Homo sapiens: one gene and its partners. The protein of the gene in region 1 binds, or shares a complex with, the protein of each later gene. Each region holds a gene or a part of one and is shown on either strand. Other genes may lie near its edges. The genes, in order: GTF2E2, ERCC3 and GTF2A1.

Evidence for each region.
Region 2: GTF2E2 (region 1) and ERCC3 share a complex: the UniProt entries of both Homo sapiens proteins name them as parts of the TBP-based Pol II pre-initiation complex.
Region 3: GTF2E2 (region 1) and GTF2A1 share a complex: the UniProt entries of both Homo sapiens proteins name them as parts of the TBP-based Pol II pre-initiation complex.

The regions. Positions count from the first base shown.
Region 1 is NC_000008.11:30,645,976-30,656,575, forward strand, and holds part of GTF2E2 (transcription initiation factor IIE subunit beta), read right to left. Parts: intron 9,210-10,600; exon of another isoform or gene 9,101-9,209; intron 8,007-9,100; exon of another isoform or gene 7,728-8,006; intron 7,628-7,727; 5' UTR 7,624-7,627; coding exon 7,458-7,623; intron 90-7,457; exon of another isoform or gene 1-89. UniProt on the Homo sapiens protein: Recruits TFIIH to the initiation complex and stimulates the RNA polymerase II C-terminal domain kinase and DNA-dependent ATPase activities of TFIIH. Both TFIIH and TFIIE are required for promoter clearance by RNA polymerase.
Region 2 is NC_000002.12:127,275,294-127,285,893, reverse strand, and holds part of ERCC3 (general transcription and DNA repair factor IIH helicase/translocase subunit XPB), read left to right. Parts: intron 1-5,262; coding exon 5,263-5,447; intron 5,448-6,518; coding exon 6,519-6,721; intron 6,722-10,600. UniProt on the Homo sapiens protein: ATP-dependent 3'-5' DNA helicase/translocase. Binds dsDNA rather than ssDNA, unzipping it in a translocase rather than classical helicase activity. Component of the general transcription and DNA repair factor IIH (TFIIH) core complex.
Region 3 is NC_000014.9:81,174,734-81,185,333, reverse strand, and holds the end of GTF2A1 (transcription initiation factor IIA subunit 1), read left to right. Parts: intron 1-5,003; coding exon 5,004-5,111; 3' UTR 5,112-9,882; downstream 9,883-10,600. UniProt on the Homo sapiens protein: TFIIA is a component of the transcription machinery of RNA polymerase II and plays an important role in transcriptional activation. TFIIA in a complex with TBP mediates transcriptional activity.

The DNA of each region.
Region 1 (10,600 bases):
AGGCTATTTAAAACATGTTTCTAAGTCTGAAGTAAAATACTTCCACTTATATATATAAAGTTCCTATTTATTAAAAAGTAGTATTTTCTAATTTACTGAAAACAACTTATATAAATATATAATGACTTGAGTTTTATGTAGGATTAGTATGAAAAAGTCTCAAAATAATCAAAAATGCCACAAGTATATTTGCACAAAATTCTCACAAAACTGACTTACTGTTTAGTTAGAAATGCATGATATAGGAAAGGCCTAGTCTATTTTCAAACTAAAACTTACTACTACACCCCTTCATTTCCTGAGTTTGTTCTTTCATTTTACCTCTCTTATTTATACTCTCAAAGGCTAAGATAACCAAGGCAGAAAGACTGCCCCTCCCCCCATCCCCCCAAAAAAGGTCAAAAGATAGGGCCACTCAACACCTGTTGAAATATGGCAGTTTTATTTCTTGGAATTCCAAGGGCTATATAGATATTTTGTGACCCTAACACTATTTTGCTATCACCCATGAGCAAACAAAAGCATGCTCTTAACCACCACACTACCCCTAAGTCAGAAATGCCACTCCTGGAAATGTATCCTAAGCACTTAGTTCAAATGTACAAGCTCAAGGTACAAAGATTTTTTACAATGGCATTACTCAAAATAACAAAAAATTGAAAATAACTAAGACTTTAACTAAATGTGGCACATCAACTTAATGAATTATTAAAAAGCAACTGAAGGCCAGGCACAGTGGCTCATGCCTGTCATCCCAGCACTTTGGGAGGCCAAGGCGGATGGATCACAAGGTCAGGAGCTCAAGACGAGCCTGGCCAAGATGGTGAAACCCCGTCTATACTAAAAATACAAAAGTTAGCCGGGCATGGTGGTGGGCACCTATAATCCCAGCTACTCGGGAGGCTGAGGCAGGAGAACTGCTTGAACCCAGGAGGCAGAGGTTGCAGTGAGCCGAGATGATGCCAATGCACTCTAGCCTGGGTGACAGAGCAAGACTCCGTCTCAAAAAAAAAAAAAAAAAAAAAAAAAAGCAACCGAAAAGTCTGGCAAGATAGACAAGTATTTAAAAGTAAAAAATAAATTCACCATATAAAAGTTTTAATACAATTATTGATATTATAAATATACACATGAGTAAGGTTTGAAAACAAATATGGAGAATTAGAATAGCTGGTATATTAAGAGGGCTGTGGGGACAAAAAAAAGCACTAGGTATTATAAAAGACTTTTTTTAAATCTCTATTACTGATGGAATTTTTTGTGTGCAATAAATAACTGTGTGGTGAAGAGAGGAAATCTGTTCTTTTCAATTTAAAGAATATCGGCTGGGCGCGGTGGCTCACGCCTGCAATCCTAGCAGTTTGCAAGGCCGAGGCAGGTGGATCACCTGAGGTCAGGAGTTCGAGACCAGCCTGGTTGACATGGTGAAACCCCATCTCTACTAAAAATACAAAAAAATTAGCCAGACATGGGAATGGGGCCCCTGTAATCCCAGCTACTTGGGAGGCTGAGGCAGAATCACTTGAACCTGGGAGGCAGAGGTTGCAGTGAGCTGAGATCATGCCATCGCACTCCAGCCTGAACAACAAGAGTGAAACTCCGTCTCAAACAAACAAAAGAATCTTAACTGCCGGTCTGAAATAACTCTTCCACAAAGTATTTTTTATATTTATTCTCACATTAGAAACAAACACAAATAATATAACCAACTTTAAAAGGATTTGTGAAGCTTGGATATATAAAATACTTTGGAAACCAGGAACTGAGCACTGTTAAAACCATATACATTTTCACAAACGTTGGATTCTTGGCAATAGATGGTAAGTATACAAGTCCTTTAATAATCAGATTTTTTAATAGTGTACATTACCAACTTTCTCCCCCACCCTATCCTGTAATTATTTAGTCATCCAACAAATATTTACTGAGTGCTTACTACATGTCAGCAATTAGGCCAGATACTGAGGGCAGAGTGGCAAACAAGGAACCACGTCACTACAATGGAGCACATTGGAAGCTCTGTCAAAAAGAGTAGTGATATGGGAACTCAAAGGTTATACAGTGAATTCACACTGAAGAATGAGAATAATATGACTTTTAAGCTGAAACTTAAAAGAACAGGACAGAACCAAAAGAGGGTAGGAGGTAAGAAAGAATATTCCAGGAAGAAGAAATAATACGAATAAAAGCCAAGAGGCAAGAGAGAATAAAGCATGTTGGAGGAGCTACAAGTCAGTATCACTAGGACAGAGTACAAGGAGAACAGTATGATACCACACCTAAGAGATAATTAGAGGCCAGATGAGGCAGGCACGCAGGCTGCAGTAAAACATGGACTTTATCTGAAAAACAGTAACAATCAGCTTGAGCTGAAAGCAACATGATCTAATGAGAAAAATCACAGCTGTATGAAGAATGAACACTAAAGCAGCTAAACCAGGAGACCTGGTCAACAGCTAACCTAGCAATCCAATGACCGTGGCCTGAACTAGAGTGGCATGGTAGCCTTTAGTTGTTACACCCAATATTTCCAGCTCTCTTCATTAAGGAAAGCATTCACTTCAGAGCCCCCTATGGCTGGGAACATAACTTTGGCCAATGAGTGACTTGTGACTAACTCTGGCCAATGAGCTGTGAGAGGATGTGACATGTGTCACCTTCAGGCCACAGCACTTAACTGCTAGTGCAAGCTCTTCCAGAGTTAGTTTTCCTGCTAGCACAGAACTCACAAACATTTGAGCTTCCAGCTGCTCTGCCAGCCTGGGTCCTTGAGTGACTATAACTAGCTAAGACTTCTACCAATCCATGATAAACATGTAGTATGAAGGAGAAACAAGCTTCTGTTGTTTTAAGAAACTGAGATTTTTGGGATTGTTACCACAACACAGTTTATCCTACCCTGACTGTTAGGGAAAACCCTGGCCAACCAAAGAGAAGTAAAACCCTACAAGGGCTCTTCCTGCTGTCGAATGGGACCTGTTTGTGGGGAAGATGAAATTCGCTACCCAATACCTGTAGCCTAAACTACAAAATGCAAAGACATTCTTGAGCAGGTCAAAGGCTCAAGTGGCTTAAGCCTGAGAGTGGCTATGTTAATGTTTAAAACAGTTTTTACATTTTTGTTTATGATGAGTTAATTCTATGTACATTTCATTGGAACGACATATAAACCTAATATATATTATAAGAATGACAGGCCTACTTTGATTTTTAAAAAAGCTTTGCTTCCAAATCAGTTATAAAACAGCTTGTAGGATGTGTAAAAAATTAACATCAATAAAAATTATTATTGCTACAATTTGAAGTAGCTAAATAATTTCAGCTGTGAATTAAGTTCCACTGACATTGTTTAAAAGATAATAATGTAAGAGTAAACTAAACCCAAAGCAAGCAGAAGGAAGGAAATAATAAATACTGATGTGGAAATAAAAACAAACAAACAAACAAACAAAAACCAAAACAGAAAAGCCAATGAAACCAAAGGTTGGTTCTTTGAAAAAAATCAACAAAATTGATGAACCTTTAGCTAGACTCATCAAGAAAAAAGGGAGAAAAGACAAATTCCTAAAATCAGAAATGAAAGAGGACACTGGGTGAGGTGGCTCAGGCCTGTAATCCCAGCACTTTGGGAAGCTGAGGCAGGCAGATCACCTGAGGTCAGGAGCTCAAGACTAGCCTGACCAACATGGCAAAACCCTGTCTCTACTAAAAATACAAAAATTAGCTGAGCGTGGTGGCACACACCTGTAATCCCGGCTACTCTGGGGGGCCTGAGAGACAGAGCAAGACTCCGTCTCAAAAAAAATGAGAGGGGATATCACTACTGACTTTATAGATATCAAAAGGATTATAAGGGAGTACTTTGAAAAACCTCAGACAATGTAAATGATGAATGAATAAACTTCTAAAAAGCCACAAAGTACCAAAAGTAACTCAAAAAGAAATAGAAAATCTGAGTAAACTGAAAAGAAAAAATTCTTACAAAGAGCTTTCCACAAAGGAAAGCTGAAGCCCAAATGGCTTCACCAGTGAATTCTATCAAACATTTTAAAAAATAACAAAGTTTCACAAACTCTTTCAGAAAATAGGTGAAAAGGGAGCACTTCACAAATCGTTTAAGGAGGCCAGAATTACCCTGAGAGGCACCAGAGAAAAACGAAACTACATACACATCAAGTCCCTCAGGAATAGAGATGCAAAAATCCTGACCGAAATACCAGCAAATTGAGTACCACAACAAATAAAAATGATTATACACCATAACCAAGTAGGATTTATTTCAGGAATAAATGCAAGGTTGTTTGAACATCTAAATATCAATTAATGTTAATATATCATATTAATAGACTAAAGAGTGAGAACATGCTCATCTCATTAGATACATAAAAAGCATCAGACAACATCCAGTACCCATTTATGACTAAAAACTCTCAGTCAGATGCAGTAGCTTATGCCTATAATCCCAGCACTTTGGGAGGCTAAGGGGGATGGATCCCTTGAAGCGGGGAGTTTGAGACCCACCTGGGCAACAAAGTAAAACCCCATCTCTACCAAAAAAAAAAAAAAAAAGTTTTAATTAGCCAAATGTGGTGGGCATGTGCTTGTAGTCTCAGCTACCCGGGAGACTGAGGCTTGCTTGAGCTGGGGAGTTTCGAGGCTGCAGTGAGCCATGATCACGCCAGCAGTGAGCCATGATCATGCCCGTACTCCAGCCTGGGCAACAGAGTAAGACGCTGTCTCGAAAGAAAACAAACAAAAGGCTGGGTGCGGTGGCTCACGCCTGTAATCCCAGCACTTTGGGAGGCCAAGGCGGGTGGATCACAAGGTCAGGAGATCGAGACCATCCTGGCTAACAGTGTAACCCCATCTCTACTAAAAAGACAAAAAAATTAGCCAGCCATGGCGATGGGTGCCTGTAGTCCCAGCTACTAGGGAGGCTGAGGCAGGAGAACAGCATGAACCCGGGAAGTGGAGCTTGCACTGAGCTGAGATTGCGCCACTGCACTCCAGCCTGGGCAACAGAGCAAGACTCCGTCTCAAAAAAAAAAAAACCACCTCTCAACAAACTAGAAATAGAAAGGAACTTCTTCAACTGGAAAGGGCATGTACAAAAACCTGCAGTAATATCATGCGTAAGAGTGAAAAACCGAATGCTTTGCCCCTAAGATCAGGAACAAGGCAAAGGTAGCTACTTTTACTATTCAATGTACAGCCAGTCCAGACAGGCAAGATAAATAAAAATTAAAAAGTTCACACCGGAAAGAAAGAAAGAAAACTGTTCTTATTCACAGATGACATAATCTTGACATAGAAAATCCTAGGGAAACCACACAAAAAACTACGAGAAATAAAAAACAAGTTCAGTCAGGTTACAGAATACAAGATCAATGTATTAAAAAAAACTCTTGTTTCTATATACTAGCAATGAACAATTTAAAAAAAAAAATCAAAGAAAACAATTTCATTCATAAGTGAGATTGAATCAGAATAAAATAACCGCTGGGTGTAATGACTCACACCTATAATCCCAACACTCTGGGAGGCTGAGGTAGGAAGATTGCTTGAGGCCAGGAGTTTGAGACCAGCCTGGGCAACAGAGCAAGATCCTGTCTCTACAAAAAATTTGTAAAAAGCCATCTATTCATTGACTGGAAGATCTAATATTGTTAAGATGGCAGTTCTTCCCCAAATTGATTTATAGATTCAATTCAATCCCTATGGAAATCCCAGCAGGCTTTTTTGCAAATGTTGATAGATTGACCCTAAAATTTATGCAGAAAAACTAAAACAATTCTTGAAATAAAAAAGAACTAAGTTGATGGACTTACATTTCTCAGTCTCAAACCTTAATTACAATGCTACAGCACTCAAGAGAAATGATACTGGCATAAAGATAAACACAGAAGTCAATGGAACCAAACTAAGACTCCAGAAATAAACTCTTTGATTTATGGTCTACTAATATTCAACAAGGGCGCAATATAATTCAACAGGGGAAAGATCATCATTTCAAAAAATGATGCTGGGACAACTTCATAAGAACACGCAAAAAGATAAATTTTGACTCTTATGCTAATCCATACACAAAAATCAACTCAAATATACTACAAACCTAAATGCAGGAGCTAAAACTACAAAACTCTTAGAGGAAAACACAGAAAAAAATTTTCATGACCTGTGTCAGGCAAAGATTTCTTAGATATGACACCAAGAATACAAATGATAAAAGAAAAAAACTGGTAAGGTGGACTTCATCAAAATTAAAAACTTTTGTACATACAAAGACACTATTAAGAAGATAAAATGACAAGCACTTGCTTGGAGAAAATATTTGCAAATGTATACCAGATCAAAGAATGGTAGCCAGAATATATGAAGAATTATTAAATCAATAGAGAGAGGAAATATACCTCAGTTTTTTTTATGGGCAAAAAAAAATTGAATAGACATTTCACCAAGGAATACACATGGTCAATAAGCACATGAAACAATGTTCAACATCATTACTCATTAAGGAAATGCGTATTAAAGCCACAATGATAGAACTTCACAACTATAGAAATAGCTATGATTAAAAAAAAAAAAACAGAATTTCAAGCGTTAGCAAGGATGAGAAAAAACTAGAACCCTGATACATTGCTGGAGGAAATATAAAATGGTACAGCTATTTTAGCAGTTTCTTAACAAGTTAAATATAAATTTGACATATGACCCAGAAATCTACTTCTAGGTCTCTATCCAAAAGAGATAAAAAGATATGTCTACACAAAGACTTGTACATGAATATTCATACCAACACTATTCAAAACAGCCAAAAAGTGAAAATAATCCAAATAACCGTTTATTGGTGAATGGATAAACAAACTGTGGTACATATATCCATACTATGGAATACGCTTTACCAATAAAAATGGAATGAAGTACTGATGCATACTACATGGATGGAACTCAAAAATATGCCAAGTGAAAAAAACAACACACAAAAGACCACTTACTGTACAATTTCATTTATAGGAAATATCCAGAAAAGGCAAATATACAGAGCCAGAAAGCAGATTATTGGTTTTCCGGGGCAGGGATGGGAAAAGTCACTGCAAATGGGCACATCAGATCTGCTGGGGGTGATGGAAATGTTCTAAAATTGGACTGTAATAACAGCTGCAAAATTCTGTAAATTTACCAAACATCTTTGAACTGTAAACTTAAAATGAATGAACTGTATGGTATGTAAATTAAACCTAAATAAAGTTTTTTTAAAGAGGTAATAACCTAAATTTTAACTACAGCACAAGACTATTAACATCCTAAGAGCTTAAATTCTCTTGTCCCATCCTTTATATTCAACAAAGTGCCTATCAACATGAGTGCTGAACTGAAAAATGAACTAGCCATAACTAAACGGTTTCCTCCTGAATAATCTGAATAAAAACCAAACAGTCCTAAACAATTTTACTAACCAGAATTTTGTTTAGAGCCTGACGATCCTCCATGTTCTACCTTTGTTTTCTTCTTCTTTGACGATGATGATGATGACTCAGAAGATGCTGAACGTTTTTCTACTACAGGAGTAGAAAGAGCTCGTTTTTTGAACAGCTCCCTTTCTCTCAACAGGCTTGGATCCATAATGCTACAAAGAAAAAATAAGTGTCTTTAATACAAATTCAAGTCACTCAAACCTGCACTCCAAATCCACAGATCTCAACAAGTTACTTCCCAAACAAAATTACCTTTTATTATTAGTTCTCTAGCACTTGCATTTATTCACTTATTCAAGTACTCAAGAAATATTTCATTAGCGCTTATTACACGCCAAGCACTGTACTAGCCATTATAGGAAAAAAAGAGGCCAGGCATAGTGGCTGAAGCACTTTGGGAAGCCGAGGTGGGCAGACTGCCTGAGCCCAGGAGTTGGAGACCAGCCTGGACAACATGGTAATACCTCCTGTCTACAAAAATACAAAAAATCAGGCAGGCATGGTGATGTGTGCTTACAGTCCCAGCTACTCGGGAGGCGGAAGTGGGAGGATCACTTCAGCCTGGAAGGTCAAGGCTGCAGTGAGCTGTGATAATGCCACTGCACTCTAGCCTGGGTGACAGACCAAGACCCTTGTTCAAAAAAAAAAAAAAAAAAGAAAGAAAGAAAAGAAACAGAATTATTCCCTAAAGTTCCAGAACTGTGCTGTCCAATATATTAGCCACTAGCCACATGTGCCTATTAAACATGTGAAATGTGGCTAGTTAAAATTGAGATGGACTTTCAAGTGTAAAAACCCACAAGATTTCAAAGATTTAGTATAAAGAAAAAAACTATTTAATTACTAACGAGATATTTTACATTAATTACATGTTGAAGTGATACTATTTTGAATATACTGGGTTAAATAAAATGTTAAAATTAATTTCACCAATTTTTCTTTTAAAATATGGCTATTAAAAAAAAATTAAGAGACAGTGTCTCACTGTGTTGCCCAGGCTGGAGTACAGTGGTGTGATCATAGCTCAATGTAGCCTTGAACTCCTGGGCTCAAGCAATCCTCCCACCTCAGCCTCCTGACTAGCTAGTACTACAGGTACACGCCACCACACACAGTTAATTTTTTTAAAAACTTTTTAGAGACAAGGTCTTGCTATGTTGCCCAGGCTGGTCTTGAACTCCTGGCCTCAAGCAATCCTCCTACCTCAGTCTCCCAAAGCACTAGGATTACAAACATGAGCCACTGCACCCAGCCTAGAATATTTTTAATTACACGTGTGGCTCACACTTCCCACTCCCATTATATTTCTATTGGACAACACTGCTGTAGAAACATGAGGACTACAGGGCAGAAATTAGAAGAAGGTGGATTTAGGCTCACTGCAAAAAAAGAGAACCATCAGAACTGCTTATACATAAAATGGCATATTTTTACAACTGGTGAACTCTCAATTATTAAGTGATGAAGAGGCTGAATTATTATACTATTTGTTAGAAATGTCTACAGAGAGCCGGGCACAGTGGCTCATGTCTGTAATCCCAGCACTTTGGGAGGCTGAGAGACCAGCCTGGGCAACATAGTGAAACCCTATCTCTACGAAATTAGCCAGTCATAGTGACACATACGTGTAGTCCGGGCTACTCAGAACGCTGAGACACGAGAACTGTTTGAGTCCAGCAGAGGTTGCAGTAAGCTGAGATCCCGCCACTGCCCTCCAGCCTGGGGGATACAGCAAAACTCTGTCTCAAAAAAAAAAAAAAAGTCTACAGAAAATTTCCAATTTGGAGGGAGGTGGTTTGAGGCAACTTCTATGTTGTGGTTGTTGTTTGTCTAGTTCTAAAATTACAACTCAAAGCAATTTCACTACAACCAGGGAAGCTACAGGTCAACCAACAAGAATTCTAAACACACCTCTCTTCTGAACTCTGCTAGAACCCTACAGAGGGTCTATGAAGACCTCAAGCTGACTATATAAATGAATTTGACACTGTTAAGACTAGTGTCAGCTGGGAGGAAAAAGACTCATACTTTGAAAGCTTTTAAGCACAGATAGCTCAATAAATATTTGTTAAATGAACAACACATGGAACATCATCTTTAAATTGCTCTGGTCCCATTATTACTGGTTTCACAAGCCTTTATTAAATATCTTGTTTGTGAGGCACTGTGCTCTAAGCTTTGAAAGGTTACGGAAGATAAATCCTTGTCTACATGCTGCTTAGATTTGAGAAAATGGAAGCATTGAGCTAAAAATTTTAAATATAAGCATTGATAAGAAATAATCAGACTGAATTTCAATTAAGGCGTGAACAATCACTGGACGGTGAATCAAAAACCTGCCTTCTCTCAGTTTCAATTTTTTTTTCTTTTTTTTTGAGACAGAGTCTCGCTCTGCCGCCCAGGCTGGCAGAGTGCAGTGGTGCAATCTCGGCTCAATGCAACCTCCGCCTCCTGGGCTCAAGCGATTCTCCTGGCTCAGCCTCCCGAGTAGCTGGGACTACAGGCGCGCAGCACCACGCCCCGCCAATGTCTGTATTTTTAGTAGAGACGGGGTTCATTCACCATGTTGGCCAAGCTGATCTTGAACTCCTGACCTCAAGTGATCCGCCCACCTCAGCCTCCCAAAGTGCTTAGATTACAGGCGTGAGTCACCGCACCCGGCCTCAGTTTCAATTCCTAAAGCCACCTGGCTAGGCAACCCACAAGGCCTCTACATTCAATTTCATAAGTGAAATGAGGACGCTATGAAAGCTGTCCACATCCAGCCCAATTGTAAGAATGAGAAAATGTGTATGTTATTTTTTAAACAGTAAAGTCATAAAAACGTGTTATTTCAGTATTACTATTTTGAGTTGGATCTGAAAGAAGGGAATGATTTACCGGGCTGAGGAAAGTAGGAGACAGCCTTGGGAGGAGGGAAAGCGTGGGGCCAAGAAGAAGAAAGGAGAATTGTCAAGTGAGAAGGTGGGAGCAAAAAGTAAATTTCTAGAACAGGAAACATTTGTGTCTTATTTCACGTTGCAAAGGCAGGACCTCAATCTGGACTTTAAAAAAATTACTCTAAAAGATTTAAATAGGCCGGGCGCAGCGGCTCACGCCTGTAATCCCAGCACTTTGGGAGGCCG
Region 2 (10,600 bases), on another chromosome or scaffold:
GCAACCATGACCATGATCCAAGTTTTCTTTTCTTTTTTTTTTTGAGATGGCATCTTGCTTTGTTGCCCAGGCTGGAGTGCAGTCGTGTGATCTTGGCCCACTGCAACCTCCGCCTCTAGGGTTCAACTGATTCCCCTGCCTCAGCCTCCCAAGTAGCTGGGACTACAGGTGTGTACTACCACACCCGGCTAATTTTTTTTTATTTGAGACAGTTTCGCTCTTGTTGCCCAGGCTGGAGTGCAGTGGTGCAATCTCAGCTCACTGGAAGCTCTGCCTCCCGGGTTCAAGTGATTCTCCTGCCTCAGCCTCCCGAGTAGCTAGGATTACAGGTGTGCGCCACCATGCCCAGCTAATTTTATATTTTTAGTAGAGACAGGGTTTCTCCGTGTTGGTCAGGCTGGTCTCAAACTCCTGACTTCAGGTGATCCGCCCACCTCAGCCTCACCCTGGGATTACAGGCGTAAAGTACCACACCTGGCCAAATTTTTGTATTTTTAGTAGAGAAAGGGTTTCGCCATGTTAGCCAGGCTGGTCTTGAAGTCCAGACTTTAAGTGATCTGCCTGCTTGGGCCTCCCAAAGTACTGGGATTATAGACGTGAGCCACTGCATTCGGCCACCATGATCCAGTTTTAGATTTCCTTTGTACTCATTTGCAGTCAATCTTTGTTTCTCTATCTAGCTTCAGATGACTACTGAACTGCTGTCACTATAGATTTGCTTTTTATGGAAAATTTATATAAACACAATCATACAATATATATTATGTCTGGCTTCTTTCACTTCCCATAATGATTCATCTGTGCCTTAGCATTTATCAGTAGTTTGTTCCTTTTATTGCTGTATAGTTTTTTGGGCGAATCTTTTTTGATAAAAACAGATTAAGGGATTAAGATTAACAAATTAGGAGTGGGCATGGTGGCTGACACCTGTAGTCTCCTAGCACTTTGGGAGGCCAGGGCAGGAGGATTGCTTGAGCCCAGGAGCTTAAGATTAGCCTGGGTAACATAGTGAGACATGTCTCTACAAAAAAAAATTTTTTTAATTAGCCAAGTGTGGTGGTGTGCACCTGTGGTCTCAGCTGCTGAGGAGGCTGAGGTGGGAGGATCACTTGAACCTGGGAGGTTGAGGCTGCAGTGAACCATGATTGTGCAACTGTACTCCAGCATGGGTGACAGAGTGTGAGACTCTGTCTCAAAAAAAAAAAATAAAGATGAACAGATTAGGGTAAATTAAGGAGTCTAATAGAGGTTACTATGAACAAAATGAAATCTGAGGCATTTTCACAGGTAGTGTTCAAAATGTCAAAATGGCCCCAGCATCTGGTTCTTTCTGTGCATGAGAGCTCTTCAGCCCTGATGGGTTTCTGGAGATACCTAGAGATGTTCACAGCTGGCCAGGGAGGGATTGGAGGTCTTTCTGATGGAAGCCCAGGGTGTGGGCCCTGCTGTGGGAAAGTACTTGGCATAGTGAGACAGCACAAGGTGGCCATGCGGCCAGAGGAGAGCATAGGAACAGTAGTCAAGGCTGAGGAAGATTAGCGGTATTGGGGCAGGTCTTGTAGGACCTTGTAGGCCACGACAAGAACTTTGGCTTGTACTCTTAGTGTGAAGCCATCTGAGGGATTTGAGCAGAGCATGACATGAGTTGACTTTACACTGTAAAAATACTGCCCTGGCTGCTGTGCTGGAAATAGACTGAAGGAAGCAAGACAGAAGCGGTGAGGTGAGTTTGTGGAATCCCAGTAAGGATGAAGGCGTGATCCGACTCTGGATATGTTGTGAAGCTTTAATTGACAGGTCAGGTGTGGAATCAGAGAGAAATCAAGAATGACACTAAGGTTTTTGGCTTGAACAAAGGGAGGATACAGTGGGCATTAATTGAGATGGGGAACACTCTCAAAGGAGCTGGTCTGGAAGGTGACTATCAGGAGTTGGGCTTTAGATGTGTGAATTTGAGTTTCCTGTTAGGCATTCAGGCCATGGCAAAAAGGTTAAGAAATAGGCCAAAGAAATTGATAGACATTTCACCAAAAAAGGATATACATATGTCAAAAAAGCACTTGAAAAAGGGTTCAACCTCATTAGTCATCAGGGAACTGCAGATTTAAACCCACCACAGGATGCTCCCATATGCCAGTTAGAAGGGCCAAAATAAAAAATACTGATGTGCGGGTGCTGATGAGGTCACAGCAACTGAACTGTCACACATTCCTGGAGGGATGGATTGCAAAGTGTATGGTCACTGTGGAAAACAGTTTGTCCATTTATTATGAAATTACCACATGACCCATCAGTCCCATTCCTGTGTATCCTGGATACATGAAAAGAGGTTTACACAAAATCCTGTACACGAATGTTTATGGCAGCTCTGTTCATAATATCCAAAACCCAGGTGCTCATCAGTGGGTGTCTGGATAAACAAGCTGTGGTACATCCATACACTGGAACACTACTCAGTAGTGAAAAAGAACAAACTTGCTGCATGTTGCAACCTGGATGAATCTCAAAAGCATGGTGCTGAGTGAAAGAAGTCAGCCTCAAAAGCTTCCATAGTATGTGATTTCATTTATACAACGACAGTATAGTGCTGGCCAGCAGATCAGTGGTTGCCAGAAGTGGGGGGTCAGAGATGGATGACTCTAAAGGAGAGCACAGGGGAATTTTGGGGGATGCTGTCTTTATCTGTACCCTGATTGTGGTGCTGGTTACAAAAATGTAAATATGTTAAAATGCATAGAAGTGCCCCCCCCACCCCCCGCCCCAAGTCAGTTTTACTGTGAGAATTTAAAAACTCAAAAGAAAAAAGGTGGAAGGGTGGGTATTGGGTCTGCTAGGATTGAAAATTGATGGTACAGAGAATCACTACCCACAAAGGAGTCTGGAATTGTTCTGTAGCAGTTTGGTTGGAAGCTGTGTTCAGGGCTTGAGGCATTCTGTCTGACTATATGTTTGGTACACGTTCATGTTTTTCTTTAACCCAAGCCCCAGGTCCCAGGTTCCAGGGGACAACAGCACAGATTTGGGATTGGTTATCTGATGAACAAGTACAAAAAGGTGCATCTCACACTCACATATGTCTGTGAGTTTGTCTGTCTCTCGTCTAGTTCACTGGATGAGTTAGTCTTTGGTTGAGTTGCGGAGTGAAACCAACAAACTCTAAGGGATTTTTGAGTACAGGCCCCATAAGCCCAGTGGCCTGGCCATGCTCATTGTCCCAGAGAGCAAATGTTAAATAAGGGAATGCTAGGAAGTCACAGTAAGTCTCCTGACTGTCTTAACGTCTGCTGTGTTGGGTTAGGTGGAGTGATCAATCTTTGAGATTTATCTCAAAGGATAAAGATTGCTGTGCTGTTTTACAGATTTTTCAAAAGGAGCTCTGTTATGCCTTTTTATTAATGATTCATATTATGGTACTTGTGTATATTAAGTGCTTCCTGTGTGCTAGGTACTGTGCCAGTTTCATTATTTCTACAGGTATTTATTGAGAACCTACTAAGTTTAGGCACTGTACTTGGCACTGGAGACAAAGTGGAAGGGACAGCCAAGTAACCACACAAATAAATGCCAAATGACAACCATGACATAATGTTGAGTGATACAAGCCACACACAAAAGTGCATACTATGATTTCATTCATGCAAAGTTCAGAAAGGAGGCAGACCCCTCTCAGAAGTCAGAGGAGTGTTTCCCTCAAGGAAGAGTGCTAGTTATTGACAGAAGGGGTCAGGGGAGAGACCTCTGGGTGCCTGGTTCTCTATATCCTGATCTAGGTGGTTCCACAGCTGCATGTCTGTAAAAATATATTGAGTAGTATGCTGTGAGTTATTCACCTGTGACAGCTGTCAGGGCTGTAGGAGAGTGTAATAGAGGGGTGTGATGGGGTCACGGGTGTCCAGGCAGAGTCCTACCTGCCTTATCCTTGTCTTGGGTCAGTATGTCCCCCAGTGTTGCCTCTCTGGGGCCCACACTGGGTTGGTGTAGCCATTGCCTTGACTACCATTTCCCTCTAACATGGGGAGCTTGGTCTGAGGTTCTTGGCTACTGTATTTTGGAGCCAGCACAGTCTTTCCTTAGACATAACCCTGAGCTGATTTTGTTTTCTGTGTTGTGTGTGTGTGTGTGTGTTTGTGTGTGTGTGTTTGCATGTGGTGTTGTGTGCAAACCATGTAGATGTAAAAACTAAACATTTACTTAGAGTTAGGCAACCCTATGTTATTTCACTGTGAACGTCTTTGTGTTTTGGTGCATTCAGGCCTCTTTTTCCTTAGATTTTTGTGTCTATTTATTTCTGAAATATCATTAGCCCTACTTTCAATTATATTGTAAGATAAGCATGACTCAAACATTTTAACCTTGCTTCAGAGTATTAGAATTTTTAAAAGGTGAGCCCGTGGAAATCCATAAATTAGGTTTTTTAAAAATGAATAACTCATACCCTTTATGTGTTTATTTTATTTGATAAACCAGAGAGAATTATAATGTTCAAAAGAAAGGAAGAAAAAGAGGTTGCTGGTTGACCAAAGTGATTGAATTGGTAAAGTTTGGAGAGGGGAGTTTCCTAAGGCGGGCCGGAGGGCTTGGGCGAACAGTTCCTGGAGTTTCATCACTCCCGTGGGCTTGGCTTTCTTCTCGGTTTCTGGGAAAATGATGGGAAGCTGAGAAGAGCTGGCTTCTTTCATTTCTTCCTCTCCCTAGATTGTCAACTTTCTTTTCAGTAACCTGGGTACAAGTGTTAGGGGAAAATTCTTTGCGTAATTTAGAGCTTAATGGTATTAATAGTAAGTATTGCAGGTTGTATTTCAAATTGCCATCTGTACTTCTACTGATAACTGTTGTGAGGGGAATGCTGGGATTCATTAACTTGGAGATTCCTTAAGCTCATTTCACCCTCTTGTTCTCCTTTTCATTTTCTTTTGGACAGGTCTAAAAGTGATGGTGAAGCATTTGCCTAGTCATTCTTGTCTAGAGCCAGCTTCTGTGGTCCTGAAACCCAAGGGTTAGTTCAGGTGGTGTCATAAGCCAGTGTTAAGTTGCACAGCTATGAGCATTTGAAAAAGTGACAGTGTAGGCTGGGTGCAGTGGGTCACGTCTGTAATCCCAGCACTTTGGGAGGCGAAGGCAGGGGGATTGCTTGAGGCCAGGAGTTCAAGACCAGCCTGGGCAATATAATGAGACCCCATCTCTACAAAAAATATTTTAAAATAAATAAATAAAAAATAAGAAAGAAAAGTGACAGTGTGAATGCTCCCATTGTTTCCTCAGCCAAGATGTTCCGAAGGGTGCTCACCATCGTGCAGGCCCACTGTAAGCTGGGTTTGACTGCGACCCTCGTCCGCGAAGATGACAAAATTGTGGATTTAAATTTTCTGATTGGGCCTAAGCTCTACGAAGCCAACTGGATGGAGCTGCAGAATAATGGCTACATCGCCAAAGTCCAGTGTGCTGAGGTAGCTGGGCCTGGGCTGGGGGCGTCTGGGAAAGGGCCTCCTCCTATGGGCAGGGGAGTGATCAGATCGATTCCTCATGGGCAGACACAGGTCAGGACTTAGGCTCACCTGCTACCACTTCATACAGGATCCTCAGTCACCCTGTGGTTGGGTGGTACTAGACCCACTTGCTGCATATCTTCTGTCTTGTCACATATCTCACATACCCCTGAATTTGTGATGATTCTTTTTCCTAGCCATGGGGTTTACCAGTCATGGATTTCTGTGGGTGAGGATTAGCATTCAGGGCACAGGGATGAATGAAGGCCCCTGATACCACAGTGCTGCCTGGGAGCCTGGCAGCAAAGGGCTTTGCTCTGATAGCCCCAAGCGCCTAACTGATATGCTCCCAGCCCTGCTGGGAAGTGTGTGAAGAGGTGGCGGTACTCAGTAGCAGTGCTGACTCGTGTGTGGAAGTGTGGCTTAAATGGAAGAATTGCTGACACTACCAATTGAGAATCTGGTTTCGCACACTTGCAGCTGGTGTGAAAATAACTCCCTGGATGTGATTGCATTTAAAAATCTTTTAAGTGGTTAACATGTGAAAACGTCCAGTTCAATAGGAGGTATTAGGTTGGGTTTAGTTTTGTGCATGCATTTATTTTCAGTTGTACTGATTTCTAATTCACATAGCATTTTTTTTTTTTTAAAACAGGGTCTCACTCTGTCACCCAGGCTGGAGTGCAGTGGCGTGATCTTGGCTCACTGCAACCTCCGCCTCCTGGGCAAGTGATTCTCCTGCCTTAGCCTCCTGCGTAGCTGGAATTACAGACATGCACTACCACACCCAGCTAATTTTTGTATTTTTAGTAGAGACTGGGTTTCACTGTGTTGGCCAGGCTGGTCTTGAACTCCTGGCCTCAAGTGATCTGCCTGCCTCAGCCTCCCAAACTGCTGGCATTACAGGCATGAGCCACTGCACCTGACTGGTTTTGTTTTAAAGCTAATTCTGCTAGAGAAAGGTCTTCAAAAGTTTTAAATTGTGTGGTGTTTAAACTTGTAAAATGACCCCTGGTTCTTACTGTATTACAGGTCTGGTGCCCTATGTCTCCTGAATTTTACCGGGAATATGTGGCAATCAAAACCAAGAAACGAATCTTGCTGTACACCATGAACCCCAACAAATTTAGAGCTTGCCAGTTTCTGATCAAGTTTCATGAAAGGAGGAATGACAAGATTATTGTCTTTGCTGACAATGTGTTTGCCCTAAAGGAATATGCCATTCGACTGAACAAGTAAGAATTGAAAACTTGGAGCTTCCTCCAGGCCAGTTTCTCTTCCCCATTGAGAGTGCAGAAGGTGGCTGTTGTTTTGTTTTTTTGTTTTTCTCTCAGGAACTTCTTGGGCTCCAAAGATCTTGTTCTGTGGCCCTGGTCTCAGAAACCAGGGAAGACCTGAAGTAGGTGGTTGGAGTCAGAGGTTAGAGCATAGAGAAAAGGGGGGCTAGTCACCTTGAGCCCAAAGAACAGGGAGCAGAGACTTGGACTGAGCTGGGTGGGGCCCCATGGAAGATCTGGGCTCCAAAGGTGGGTGGGAGTTGGCATTTGGAGCTTTGGGCTGTGTGAGCTCTGTGGGTGGAGAGGAGGCCAGACTGGATGGCCTAGGGGCTGGGAAGGCAAGATGGGCTGGGCTGGCATCCCAAGTACGGACTGGCATCTGGAAGGAGCTTAGAAATGCCCACGCAGTATCCTCATCAACCCATGGCTCCACCCAAATATTTGTGCTTAAAACCTGGCTTTTGTAAAGCTCTGCCAAGTAAGGAGGAAGAGGTCTGCGCTTGCTCCTACAGTGACACAGGACTTCAGGTGCTGTAAGTGTTGCAGAAGGCCAGGCCCTCTATGGAGACAGGTCAAGCTATGTGCTATGGGTACTATACATAGGTTTTACTTAATCCTCACTTCAGCCATATAAAATGTTGTTCCCATTTTATAGAAGGGAAGACAAACTCATAGAAAGATTAAATTTCTTAAGTTTCTAAAATTATACCTTTATTTAATTTAGAAAGACTTTTTAATCCAAGTCAACATTTAGATTATTGTGAAAAACAGCAATTCCCTGCTTCTATTTTCCCACCCACAATTCTATTCCTTGAAGACAGCCGCTTTTGACTCTTTTTTGTTGTTTACCTTCATATTTCTTTCTTTCTTCCTTTTTTCTTTTTTTTTTTTTGGAGTTAGGGTGTCACTGTGTCACCCAGTCTGTAGTGCAGTGGTGTAATCACGGCTCACGGCAGCCTTGACCCCCTGGGCTCAATCAATCCTTCCACCTCAGCCTCCCGAGTAGCTGGGTCTACAGGCACGCACCACCACACCCAGCTAATTTTTGTTTTTTGTAGAGATGGGGTTTTGCTATGTTGCCCAGGCTGGTCTCAAACTCCTGAGCTCAAGCAGTTCCTCCTGCCTTGGCCTCCCAAAGTGCTGGGATTAGAGTCATGAGCCACCACACCTGGCCAGCCTTCATCTTTCTAAGCAATAGCTTATGTAGTAATTTCTTGATGATCAGTTATAGAAATTGCCTATTAACTTCCTACTGTAGGAGTTGAGGGTTTAGCTTTCTTACATACACCACTCTCCCCACTCCTGTTTTCTCTCCTACCATTCTCCCAATATGGGAATAGCACAAGTTGGGGGTTACTTTAATATTCAGTTACATTATTTTGACTGTGTAAGTATGTTCAGGCAGAGCTGTAGAGTACTATTACATTTTCCTTTTTTTTTTGAGACGGAGTCTTGCTCTGTTGCCAGGCTGGAGTGCAGTGGCGCTATCTCAGCTCACTGCAACCTCTGCCTTGTGGGTTCAAGTGATTCTCCTGCCTCAGCCTCCTGAGTAGCTGGGACTACAGGCACCCGCCACCACAGCCTGGATAATTTTTGTATTTTTGGTAGAGATAGGGTTTCACCATATTGGCCAGGATGGTCTCGATCTCTTGACCTCGTGATCTGCCTGCCTCGGCCTTCCAAAGTGCTGGGATTACAGGTGTGAGCCACCATGCCCGGCCTTACATTTTCTTTTTTGTAAATGTTTTTTTGCCTTGGAGTTAATAATTGCCTTGTCATTGTTTTTGCTTGGTTTTCTGTGCATTGAATAATTATTCCCCTCCAAAGTCTTCACATAACCATAAACTCAGTAGGGTCAGGTAATTTCTCAGTTCTGTTTTTCTGTTTCCCCAGTGGGATCCCCACCAGCACTCCATTCGCTTACTCTGTTCTGGCCTGCTTGCTGTCTAGGACTAGAGACACCACCAGCTGTTACCATGGGGTTTCCCTTGGACACTACCCCATGACTTCCCTGGGCCTCTTTGTTGTGTTTCCCACCCTGAAATCTCCACCCTCTTGGTTACTCATTTTGATGGAGCACATGTTCCAGTAGGTTCCTGAGAGAAGGGATGTAGGAGGAGAAGCTTTGGAGACTTCACATGTTTACAGATGTCTTTACTCGACTTTATACTTGATCAGTAGTTTGGCCAGGTCCTAGAACTAACATTGGAGCTTCCAGTGCAGCAGTTTGGCAGTCTGATGCCCTTTGCTTCCTCTCAGTGTGTTGTCTGCTGTGGTGGCTGTGCGTTTTCCTTCCCTTGAAAACTGGTAGGATCTTCTCTCTTTTTGGAAATTTGAAAGTGATATTCTTAATGTTTTTCTTTCATCGTGATGGGCACTCAGTATATCCTTTCCATCTGGAAACTCGTGTCCTTCAGTTCTGAGAATTTCTGTTTTTTTGTTGTTAATCACTTTCTCTATGTAGTCCCTTCTTGGAATTTTGATTCATCAGATGTTAGATCCTCTGAACAGCTTCTCCAGTTTGCTTATCTTTTTTCTACTTTTTTATCTCTTTGTCTTCTAACCCTTGTATTGAGACTTGTTAATTTCTGAGAGTTCTTTCCTGGTAACTGTTCTTGTTTTGTTTGTGAATAGAGTGTCTTCTCGGAGGCTTTGAAAACTTTTGAAGCTTCCGTCTGTTTCCTGCCATGTCTCTTTTCTTCATTTTTTTGTCTTAATTGTTTTTACCTGTCTTTTGAGTCTTTCTGAGTTTTGGTAATCCTTGACTGTATTTTATTGGTTTAAAGTCACTGAAAACCTGGCAGGCCTTTCTGTGTGGCTTAGTGGGTTTGCCAGCTTGTGGACCTCACCAGAGTGGCTGGGCAGGGCCTGGCTATTTCTTCAGGAGGTTGCCAAATGCCAGTATCTCTAGGACTTTTCTCTTGGGCTGGACGGTTTCTTCAGTGAGGAATTTTTCAGTCCCCTGGGCACCACCGTGTGTTAGGGGAAGAGGAGGGCTTGTGGAATCTTTGCATTCAGTCTTGCCTTTTCCCTCATCTCTGCCGGGCATCCCTGGAGAATAAGCCTCCAGTGCCCCACCAGTGGAGGTGGCCTGCCTGCTGCCGGCCGGACCCAACTGCTCCTCACACTCACACACTGCCAGTCCTCCTGTGCACCTCCCCACCTTCTCAGGCAACTGGTGACTAGTTCCTGAGCCCTCCTGCGTGCTGCAGAGGACACAGAGGCGGCGGGTTTTGTATCGGTCTTCCCTCCTGCCGGCTCCAGCTTCTGCTTTCTCTAGTCTGTTAGCTCAGGTACTGTGCCTGCATCTGTCTGCTTTTCAGCTTCTGAAATGTTACCCACTTCTCTCATCTGCTGTTATTTCTTCTCCTGTTTTCTTGGTGGGTTTGTGTTCTGTCACATTAGTGCCAATTTGAGCAGGGCAATGAGACAGTTCCTATATTTACTTTGCCTTATTTAAGAACTATTCTCTCCCCATCCTTCCTCCCACAGCAATGCTCCTCCAGTCTTCTGGAGCCTCACTCCAGGGGCCTCCCCCACCTACATTTGCAGCACTCCTGAGGCTTGTGCCTTAGCCGCAGCCTCCCGAGCATCTGCTTGGGCAGGGACGTTAATTTGCCTGGCACTGTCAATTCCAAGCCAGTCTGTCACAGTGAAGGGCAGCAGATTGTGGCTGTCTCCTGTGTACTAGAATGATCATTACAATGTGTACTTTTTACCTTTTTTTTGTGTCTCTGGCCTTTAAATGTATGAAGTAGTGTTTTTTCTTCTTGGTTTTCTCGCTTCTAAAATGATCCTGCGGGCCAGGCGCAGTGGCTCATGCCTATAATCCCAGCA
Region 3 (10,600 bases), on another chromosome or scaffold:
AAAATAAGTTATGAATGAAATGAAAAGAGCTACGATCTTCTTTTTCTATTTAGACAGTCTTTGAACTTGTAAGCAGAGTAAACAGCCACTTTGAGGTTGTCCTTTGTGGTAATAGCTAACTCAATGAGATAATTCTGTTTTCTATTTAGCCTCAACTATCTCAAAACTAGAAGGGTTCAATTGAATCTCTGTAACTGTTTTTATTATTAAGGAAAAGACTAAGGCAATGAACAGTGCTAAAAACAAACATAAGTTTTTACTGAAAATTATTTAAAATATTATTTAACTTTGCTGTAGTTTGCTAACATTAAGGAATTTTTAAACCAGATACTGTGAAAACTAGCCATTGATTCCTTATTTTCTTAATTCCTAGACAGGGTGCTTCTTTCCAAGTATTTTTGTTACATTTATTTGTATTATTTCTGAGATTTTTGTTTTCAAGACATTTAAATTGTAATACAGTTTTTTTATTGCAATCATTAAATTTATAATGCATGCAAATATTACGTTGCATTTATAATTTTAGTAGAGATCTTTACCAAATGCTAAAAATTCTAACAAAAGCTTATTTATTCAACATTTATAGAGTGCGGAAATTTACCAGACACTATTCTAGGCCCTGGCGATGTAGTTATGAACATGTAAAATTCATGCCTTGCATGAAGTTTCCTTTATAGATGAAGAAAATCTTAATTCTGTTGCTTTTATGGAAATGAATGTGATAAGTAGCCGTGCTTACTTCAAACAGATCTATAGGGAGAATGCCAACACTATGGATCTTATTTACTAATAAAAAGGTGGAGTTAGGCTAGTTTTACCAGTGAAGTTATAGAATGAAGACAGTAAGGTCATTGAGAGTTTCACAGCATTCATTTTTGTGCATAATGACTTCTGAGAGACTGTTCTTAAAACCATATACCATGTGCAGTATAATAAATGTAATTTCCTGTTAGATACACATAGAGCAAGACTATGAGGTTAAAACAAAAGATACCATTAAATCTTTATTGTTAGGAAGTCTCAGAGGATCTCCTTGCAACCAAATTATCCAGAACACAATTTCATGATGAGATGTCAGATTTATCAGGCAAGCGAGGACCTTTGTTTTAGCCTGACTGAAGAATATACTTTTAAGTGTCTTCCTACTTTAAGACAATGGTTGTATTCTCCTTTGGCACAAACTGTACTCATAATATTTTAAATGTTAAAATTGGTTTGTTTTGCTCCCAGAGACATTACTTTACTGTTTTAAATTAGTAAGTGGGAGATAGCTCTAAATGGTGTGCTGAATGATAAATAATTTTAAAATTTGCAGAGGTCTAATTTTGAGAATCAAATGAATTGCTCTGAAGATTGGAGGAGGGTGGTGGCTTGATGTCTTTAGCCAATAGTAAAGAACAGCAGTTTTCTTTGACTGCGCAAAATGAGGTTGGATATTGTTTGAGCCAACTTGAATTTCAGGAATGTAGTTTTGAAGCCTTAACTTTAGAATGTCAACAATGAGTCAATTTTAGAAGAGATCATAGAACGACTAATAAAGCTTGTATTGCCAATCAAATCAGAATCTTAGTTAAATGCTAATAATATGGTAGAGTTCTTGCTTACGTGTGGGTGGATAAGGGCTGATACAGCATTTAGCGAAAATAGCATCAGATGTAGGTAAACTTGCTTTAACACATTTTTAATTAGGAAATTTAAGAGGGCTTTCTCCTGGCTTTAAGAATATTCCTTCATGAAGGGCTTAGGGCCGGTAAATAGATTGCTTTTTAAGTTGTGACTTTGTACTTCTATTAATATAAAAATATTTACCATTTATTACCCAACATGACTTCAGTGTTGACTGTGTGGATTAGTTGGCCCATGAAACTTTGGTACATTTATTTTTTGCAAATTGTCCTGTCCTATGACAGAATGCAGGCAGTTTCTTTACTTGTCTATAGAATCTCTTATTTCCTGGCTACTCATCACTTTCTTGTTTTTGTCTAGCTAAGCCCACGGTCTTTCTGGTTGCAGTCACTTGGTTCATGCTGGAAATACATTTGTATACACGTTTGTAGAATAAATAATACTTTATAGGAATTCAAAGATAAGGGGAGACAGCTCTTTTCATGTGCAACAGATACTGTTTATGATGTCCCTTGGCACTATTCTTGGAGCTTGAGATACACTAATGATCAAAACAGAACAGTCCCTGCCATTGGGAAGCTTACTCCAATCAGGGGAGATAGATGCTAAAACATAATAAATTAGGATTTATTTACTTATTTAAAACATAATAAAATATTTATATGTTAGAAGCTGATAGTCGGTATGGAAAAATAAAGAGCAGGGAAAGAGGACAGGTTTGGTTTCAGTTTTAAATAGGATAGTCATAGTAGGTCTTTGGAGAAAATGACATTTTAGCAAAGACTTGGAAAGAGTTAGCCCTGTCATCTGGTGGCAGAGTCTGTTGTATGTGAGGAACAGCAAGGAGGCCTGTGTGGCTAGACTGGAGTGAGGGAAGAGGAGAGTACAGTAGTAGGTAGAGAGGTAAGGGAAGGCAGATAGTAAGGATTTTGTAAGGACATGGCTCTTACTCTTAAGTGAATCAGAAAGTTATTGGAAGGTTTCAGTGAGACAAATGGTATGAACTGATTTAAATTTTGAAAGGATTACTTTGCTTTCTTTGTAGAGAGCATAATATGAGGAGGAAGCAGAGGTTGCTGAAACGAGACTATTTAGGGGGATATTATAATAATTCACATGGGAGATAATGATGACTCGGCCTATGGTGATGGTATTAAAGTTGGTGAGAAGTAGTTGGATTTTGGATTTGTTTTGAAGGAAGAATGTTAACAGCATTTCCTGACTCTGAGATTTGTGGTAGAAAAGAAAAAGGAATCAAGAATGACTCTTGAGATTTTTTGATGAGGATTCTGAAAGAAGGATGGTGATACCATCAGTTCAGATGAGGAAAAGCTGCATGTGGAGCTGGTTGGACATGCCAAGTCTGGTATGTCCGTTAGACATTCAAGTCATCAATCTTAAGATGCTACATTTAGCATTTATGTAGTGTATTTAGACCAGAGATATAATTAGTTCTTAATCCAACAGTCTTTACCCTACCTGCTGTTTTACCTTTATTGTGCTTTGTTTTGCTTTAATAAGTAAGCAAAGTTTGAATCCAGAAGAAGAACATGAGAGTAGTTTCCAAATAAGATGAAGGTTGTTTGATTGAGTGATTTTTTTTTTTTAAGTCTCAAAAAGCAGAGCTAGGATCAATAAATGGAAGTTGGAGAAGCAGATTTCCGTAAGGGTAAACTCTGAAAGATTTTACAAGAGAGCTGTTCCAAAAAGGAATAACTTAATTTGAAATTCTTTGCTCACTGTTTCTAATCGTATTTAAGCAGACACTGCACAACCATTTGCCAGGAATATGTCATGAAGAATGTTTGCACTGGGAGGTTAGGCCATGGAATTTTAGGAATGAGATCTCAGAAAATATCTGTACCTGGCCGGGTGCAGTGGCTCACGCCTGTAATCCCAGCACTTTGGGAGGCCGAGGTGGGGGATCACCTGAGGTCAAGAGTTCAAGACCAGCCTGGCCAGCCTGGTGAAACCCATCTCTACAAAAATACAAAAATTAGCTGGGCGTGATGGTGAGTGCCTGTAATCCCAGCTACTCAGGAGGCTGAGGCAGGAGAATCACTTGAACCTGGGAGGGGGAGGTTGCAGTGAGCCAAGATCGTGCCATTGCACTCCAGCCTGGATAACAGAGTGAGACTCTGTCTCAAAGAAAAAAAAGAAAAAGAAAATATCTATACCTGTTGAGCATTTCTGCATTATTATATGAAACAGACTGATTTAGTAAAAGCGTACTGGACCAAGACTTGAAAATCATGATTGTCACTTAGTAGCAGTATACACTTGGTCAAACCATTGAACCCTATCCAATCTGTCATTTCTTCTTCTGAAAATGAAAGCCTGAACTAGTTGATTTTTTTTTTTTTTTAGGTACCTTTAGATCATAGAATAGGGAGAACCAGGGGGCCTTCTTTGCAGAAGATGTGGAACTTGAACATTAAATAATTAGTGTGACTTACTGGGAAAAGGAAGAAAGGTCACTTCAGTTCATTAAGTTTTACAACTCCTCTCCCCCACCAAATCCATGGAATTACAAACAACTACGGACTATAAGTGAAGGCAAAGATGGGAGTGCCCAGAGCCTGCCCTTCAGCTCTTTTTGTTTAACTGTGGATGTACATAGTTTTTGAAATCTGGTGTAAGTGACTGGATGATTAGCATCCTTTAGATGTATTTTTAAAATACTGCTATGTATAAGGTTCCATGGTAGTTAGGTCTTGAGAACTCTATAAGGAGTTTTATTTTGGTAGAAGAAATGAGTCCATAATTGTATTACTTACAAATAATGTAAGAAATGTCAATGAAAATACCATTGGGAATTTAACAGTGGAAAAGAATAGTTTTAGCTGGTAAGATTTGGGAAAGCTTTGTGGAGGATAGTCTTTTTGAGGTAGACCTTGAAAATATATATGCAAACCTGGTAGAGAGATAAGACATTTTGTAAAGAAATATTTTTTAACTACTTTAATGAACACAAGTACTAAAAGCTATAAAATAGTACTAATTACAGATAAATTTGTTTTTAGACCCACCTAGTGAGTTTTGTGTGTGGTTTTTTTGTTGTTGTTGTTCTTTTTGGTGAAATTAAACTTTATTAAGAAACCAATTTTTAGGCCAGGTGCTGTGACTCACGCTTGTAATCCCAACACTTTGGGAGGCTGAGATAGAAGGATCACGTGAGGCCAGGAGCTCGAGCCCAGCCTGCACAACATAGGAGACCCTTCTTCTACAAAAACAAACCAATTTGCAAATACAATACTGTAAATACTGTTTTGTGGGGGGGTGTGTGTGTACGTGTGTGTGTGTATGGGTTTTTTGTTACTTGTTTTCTCTGTTTTCTGATTGTATCTCTCAATTTTTAAAATGTTGTTTTTGTTTAGATACACAGAAGTAAAAACAAATGGAAATTTCATCTCAAGGATGGCATTATGAATCTTAATGGAAGAGATTATATATTTTCCAAAGCCATTGGAGATGCAGAATGGTGAAGAGTTGCTTTTTTTCTTTTATAAATAAAAGAAACTTAAAAAAAATGTAAAGCGGACAGTTTGAAACTTGGGGCATATGCCAACCAAAACTTCGTTTCTGCATGTCAGAAAAGTGCAGTAGAAGCAAAGCTACTGGAACAAAGATAGACCTTGACAACATAGACACTACTTACTGGCAAGCCATGGAACTGTAGCACCTAGGGTTTTTGGGTGGGAGGGTTGGGGTTTTGTGTAGGAAAACCATAATTGTTGATTTTAAATACAGGTACCTGCCACCGGTAATTAGCATGTAAAGCTTTGTCTATATTCCTTCCTCCAACTTGGGTTCAATCAGAAGATACTTGTTGGAATGAACTGAAGAAACTTCCCTTTTGATAGATTGAACTGAAACTGCTTATTGTATGTGGTTATATTTGGTAAAAGTTGCGTGTGAGCTTTTTACAAAAGGGTAAGAATTGTGTTGAATTTTAATTCACTTGTATAAGAAAACAATTTAAAACTCTCATAATAGGTCTTAAATATTTTTACTTGCTATTCTCCCTCAGTGATATATACCTCTTCCTTTCCAGCTTTATGAAACATCTATTTAAGATTTAAAGTTATCAGTGATCATAGTTTGGAGATAAAATTTGACCCAGGAATGAATATTTATTTTAATTAGGTTTTCATACTTATTAAATGTAATTAAAGACTTGGGTCTTGTCTGAGTTCAGTGGAATTGAAACCACAACTTTAATTTCCTTACAGAAAAACTTAATTTGTTTCTTTTAGTGCCACACCTTAAAAAGAAACCCCAAACTAGCTCCTCAGGAATATAGTTTTATTTTGCAAGCATACCATCTAGCTGAAATTGTATACACATGAATATATGTAGACTTTTCCTGTTGGGCTGAAGTGTGTGCTTATAAATGTGTTTAGTTTTTAAGCTAAACATTCAGTTAACAGTCTGTGCATTGATTAGCATAGGGCAGGTGGTGAGGACCTGGATTTTTATTAAACAGTTTAGTAATTATAAAAGTTTCTTGTGTTTACTAGTAAAGAATTTTAAAAATCTATTCTAATTCAACAAGTTTTTAAAATCAACTTTGTAATTTGAGGGGAAAATTTGGGGGGAAGAGGTGGGTGGGCCACTAAGTTACCTCTCTTTCATTTGGTGGCCCTTCCAGGCCATTGAAAATAAAGACGTTGGCTCCAGTTTGCACATTGGGAAGAAAGCATAGAAATTTGACTTGTATATTAAAAATAATAGAAATGTAATATGTATATTAAGAATGCATAGGTCTGTATTCTGTAAGGGGCTCTGAAGAACAATATGGCACTGCTGTGTTCAGTGTGAATTCACTGCCTGGGAGAACTGCAGGAATGCTTGTCTTCACCATTGTGTTCTTACAACGAATTCAACTTTCCATGGTTTATCTTGACAAAATTTACATGTGTTTAGGTTACTTGTATATTGATATATTTTTTTAATCTTCAGTTTTTGTCTTCCTTTTGCCTTTGTGTTTTCAGAAGTAACACATGAACACTTTTTAAAGTACATTACAGAGAAGAAAACTGTGAGCTATTATATAGTGTTTCTTTTTTAACACAAATCTTTTAACTTTAAAAAAAGGCAAAAATTTTTTTTTTCTACTTCCCACCCAGCTTACCACCTTGATCTCTTTAACTTATGTTCTAAACTTTGGTGTTAATGGTGGTGTCTAGCATGCTAGTAGTTAGATTTTATTTAGATGCCATAACTGGTAATACAGCTTTTATTTTGACTATATTAATTTAGTTTTTTGAGGGGAAGTTTGTTTATTCTGTGACTCTCAAAGCACACAGAGGTTTTAAAATATATATTATTAAGACTGAGAGAAGAGGAAATGGGAGGGAGTAACATCACAGAAGTGCTGTTGTTCAACTGTTCTTCAATATAGTTGCTAGTAGGTTTGTATTTACTCAGTAAGGAAGTCAGTGACCTGAACTACCTATAAAAATTCAGCAGTGCTGCAGTGTTGCTTAAGTGAAACCCTTTGGCTATCTAGTAGTTTTTATGCTACTGAAACTTGGATTACTGTATGATATTCAGCTTGTCTTGGGCCCTCTATGTAGACAAACATTCATATTCATAGTAGTGTTGTATACTGGCCTGTTTTTATAACTTTATTTTTCAAATATTAACAACCACTGCTTTCAGAGTGGTTATTTTGTTATTTTTGAAGCAGGAAATAACCATTTGTATTTGCACCTGCGTATTGCATATGAATTATGGTATACTTGGCAAATGCTTTTCTTTTACCTGTGAAAATTCTGAAAGCTGGTCCAAGCTACATTGCATACCAAATTGTGCTCTTATATATTATTTGCATCGTGTCCTTTTTAATCAAATAGCATGTTTTAGTTTTATTATAGTAGCTTTTGCTGTAAGAATGTCACTTGCTTATCTTTTATTGTACTTGAATTCTTAATCATGCTTTTAACATTGTATTTAACAAATCATTTCGTATTAGGTTCCATTAAAATGTCATTCCTTTGAAAAGGCAAGGGATTTCCACTTTCAGAATTTGAAAATGAAAGTAGCATGTTTATCTAAAGGCAGAAAATAGTTCGGACTTGGTATTATGAAAATAAGTAATGGTTTCTGGAGAGGATTTGTTTAGATTTGCACAGATGGCGATGGCACCTTTTACTTAAATTAACATTAATCAACAGTGCTAAGGAAAATTTACACAAAATTACAAGATAAAACATGGAAATGTGTGCCTTTCAGTATACAAACTCTTGCTTGGTGGCCATTTGGGTAATCAGACCATTTGAATGCCTGAGAGCATGTTTAATTTCTGTGGAGTGCCACATATGGCTAAAACAACTCTTTAATGTGCAATTAATTTCTAGAGTAAAATGTCTGTTATGTGAGGGGGATCTTTATGTTGGGCTTTTCTATTTTTTAAATGTTCACATTTCTTTCTGTTAATTAAAATGCCATCATAATGTCACATTTACACTGTTGCCTCTTTTAAAAGCAAAGCCACTTTCTTGTTCTAAGATTACATCAAGACTTGAGCAGTGTGTAGTAATTAAAATGTGTGCTTAATGAGCATAATAGATTCTGGTTTTAGGAAATAACATATAGCTTTTATATGAATATTTTCTTTTGCTATAATGAAAGTCACAGATTTTTTTTTTCCTGGCTTTTATGGAGGAATGAAAAGAGTTGTCTCCCTCTAAGAGTATACTATTTTTGATTCTCATAGCAATAATGTCACCATTCTTATCAGAGGGTAAATACCCCTTGTATAGGAAAACAGACATAATTTCCTCTTGGGAGTTCTCTTTATGACTTAGCATTTTCTTCTACTTGAGAAAATTCCTGTTTTTCCGATTATTTCATCTTGAACTTTCTTTTTTTTAAGCTTTTGTGCAATGTAATAGTTTGTTGATCCATCTTTGTACATTTTCATTTTATTTCATGTCTTTCTCTCACCTACCTGTCAGAATCAGCTATAGCAGATTTTGAATTCTTTAGTTAAAAAATAGTTGCTTTACTTGTTTCCTCATGAGTTTGTTAAATAGCTTTGCATTTTAGTCCTCTATTATGCTATGAAAATTATTACGAAGTTTATATTGTTCCCTTTTTAAGCCTGCCTTACTCTTGTCTTTTGTCATTGTCTATGGTTTAATGAAGAACACACCAAACTAACATTTTTGTTTATTTTGAGGAACAAAAAAACTTTTCTCTTTTAAGGGAAGTTACTACACATTGAGTTAGTAACTACTCTTTCAGTCAAGGTTCCTTAATCAGTCCAGTCTACATCAGGACTATGACTTGGGGGGCGGGGCTAATCCTTTTTGCTGTTCTGAGCTACTATTGTCAACTGCTGTTGTACATACTGTTATGTGTAATGGCGTAAATATATTTATTATGTTTGTAAAATTCATTGCAGATCAAGGTTGCTCTTCTGTGATATATGGGATATTATGTTTTAAAGACCATCTTGGAATACAATTAGAGAACTTAGTATTTTGATGTACTAAGACCTATTTTAAGTTTAATATTCTACTTTGCAAAAACTTTAATTAAAGATGTTATTTAAAAAAAAATGTTGCTTGCTTTGCTTACTAGTATATGGCATTGTTATAGATAATTGAATAAAATACAATTTAGAAAGGAAAATGCTTTACATTGTTAATGAGAATTCCATTTAACAACAACAAAAAGATGCTAAATTCTGTACCTTAAAGATAAGTAGATTGAGATGTCAATTTGAATTAGTAAACTGTGTTACAAATGATTAATACTAGCTTTTAAAAAGTTGTATTTTCCAGGCACACAGGAATTTAGGTTGGGCGAATTCACACTAACAAATTATAACTAAAAATTGGTATAATTAACATTGTTTTTCAAAATAAAGATTACTCCTTGTGAAATATTAATAATTAACATATTGTATTAAATAAGTATTTCTACTCCAAAGTATAGATTACTTAGGATAAAAACATTGTTATTTCTCTGTTTAGTCAAACCACTTCCTCTTAGTTCAGAGGTTATAAATAATTGCATATTAGGAGAATTGGATTACTGAGGTTTGTATTGCGTATTGAATATATTTTGTGTTATTTTAGAAGATAATAATTAGCAGGTATTTTAATTTTATAGTTAATTCAGCTGAATCATTAAGAAGCTCGCCTTTTTGTATTTTTTTATCCTGTTAACAGACTATCTAGAAAACATGCAAATTTTAACTATTAACATAATCATAATAAAGATATCTTATTTATTGCCAGCAAATCTTGTATTTTGCAGTTTAATTCAAGCCCCTACTTTGATTAAGCTTAAGCTTTTGGCTTTTGTTTCTCCAGCTGTAAAATGACAAGATTTTGAGGATGAAATGAGGTGTGATGCATGTAAAGCTCTTAGGCTGGTGCCTGGTACACAGTCAGCACTCAGATGTCACAATTATATGCTTAATTTCATACTTATTTGCATAGTTTAAAATTATTCTTGAACCGGAAAAAATTAATGGTCAAAAATAGCAAAAACAAATTGAGAACCAGTGAAAGAGTTCATTATAACCAAACAATCCTGGGAGGGTAAGTTGGTGAAACAATGCATCTGGCTACAGCAGAAAGTGTCAGAGGGAAGAAAATTGAGTGCTGGGTATGGGAGAGGGATAATCAAACAGTGGGAGGGCCTTTAAGCTCCCTCTCTCCCCCCGCCAAAAAAATCCTAAATTATATGTCTAAATAAGTTGAATTTTCTCAAAGCTAAAACTATGATAGAACTATCATTTTAAAAATGGACTTTTCCAAATATGAATGGAGTCTGTCCAGTTCATTTAAGGAGCAAAACAGAGTTGTCAAACATTGAAGATACGGATACATCACTCTGATTCTCACAATGTCTCCTCCACTTTGAAAAAGAGTACATTGACTTCTCTGTGTTGACAGGACCTCCATGCTAATGATGCATAGGTTAGGGTGGCATTGCTGAGTGGGGCAAATAGGGC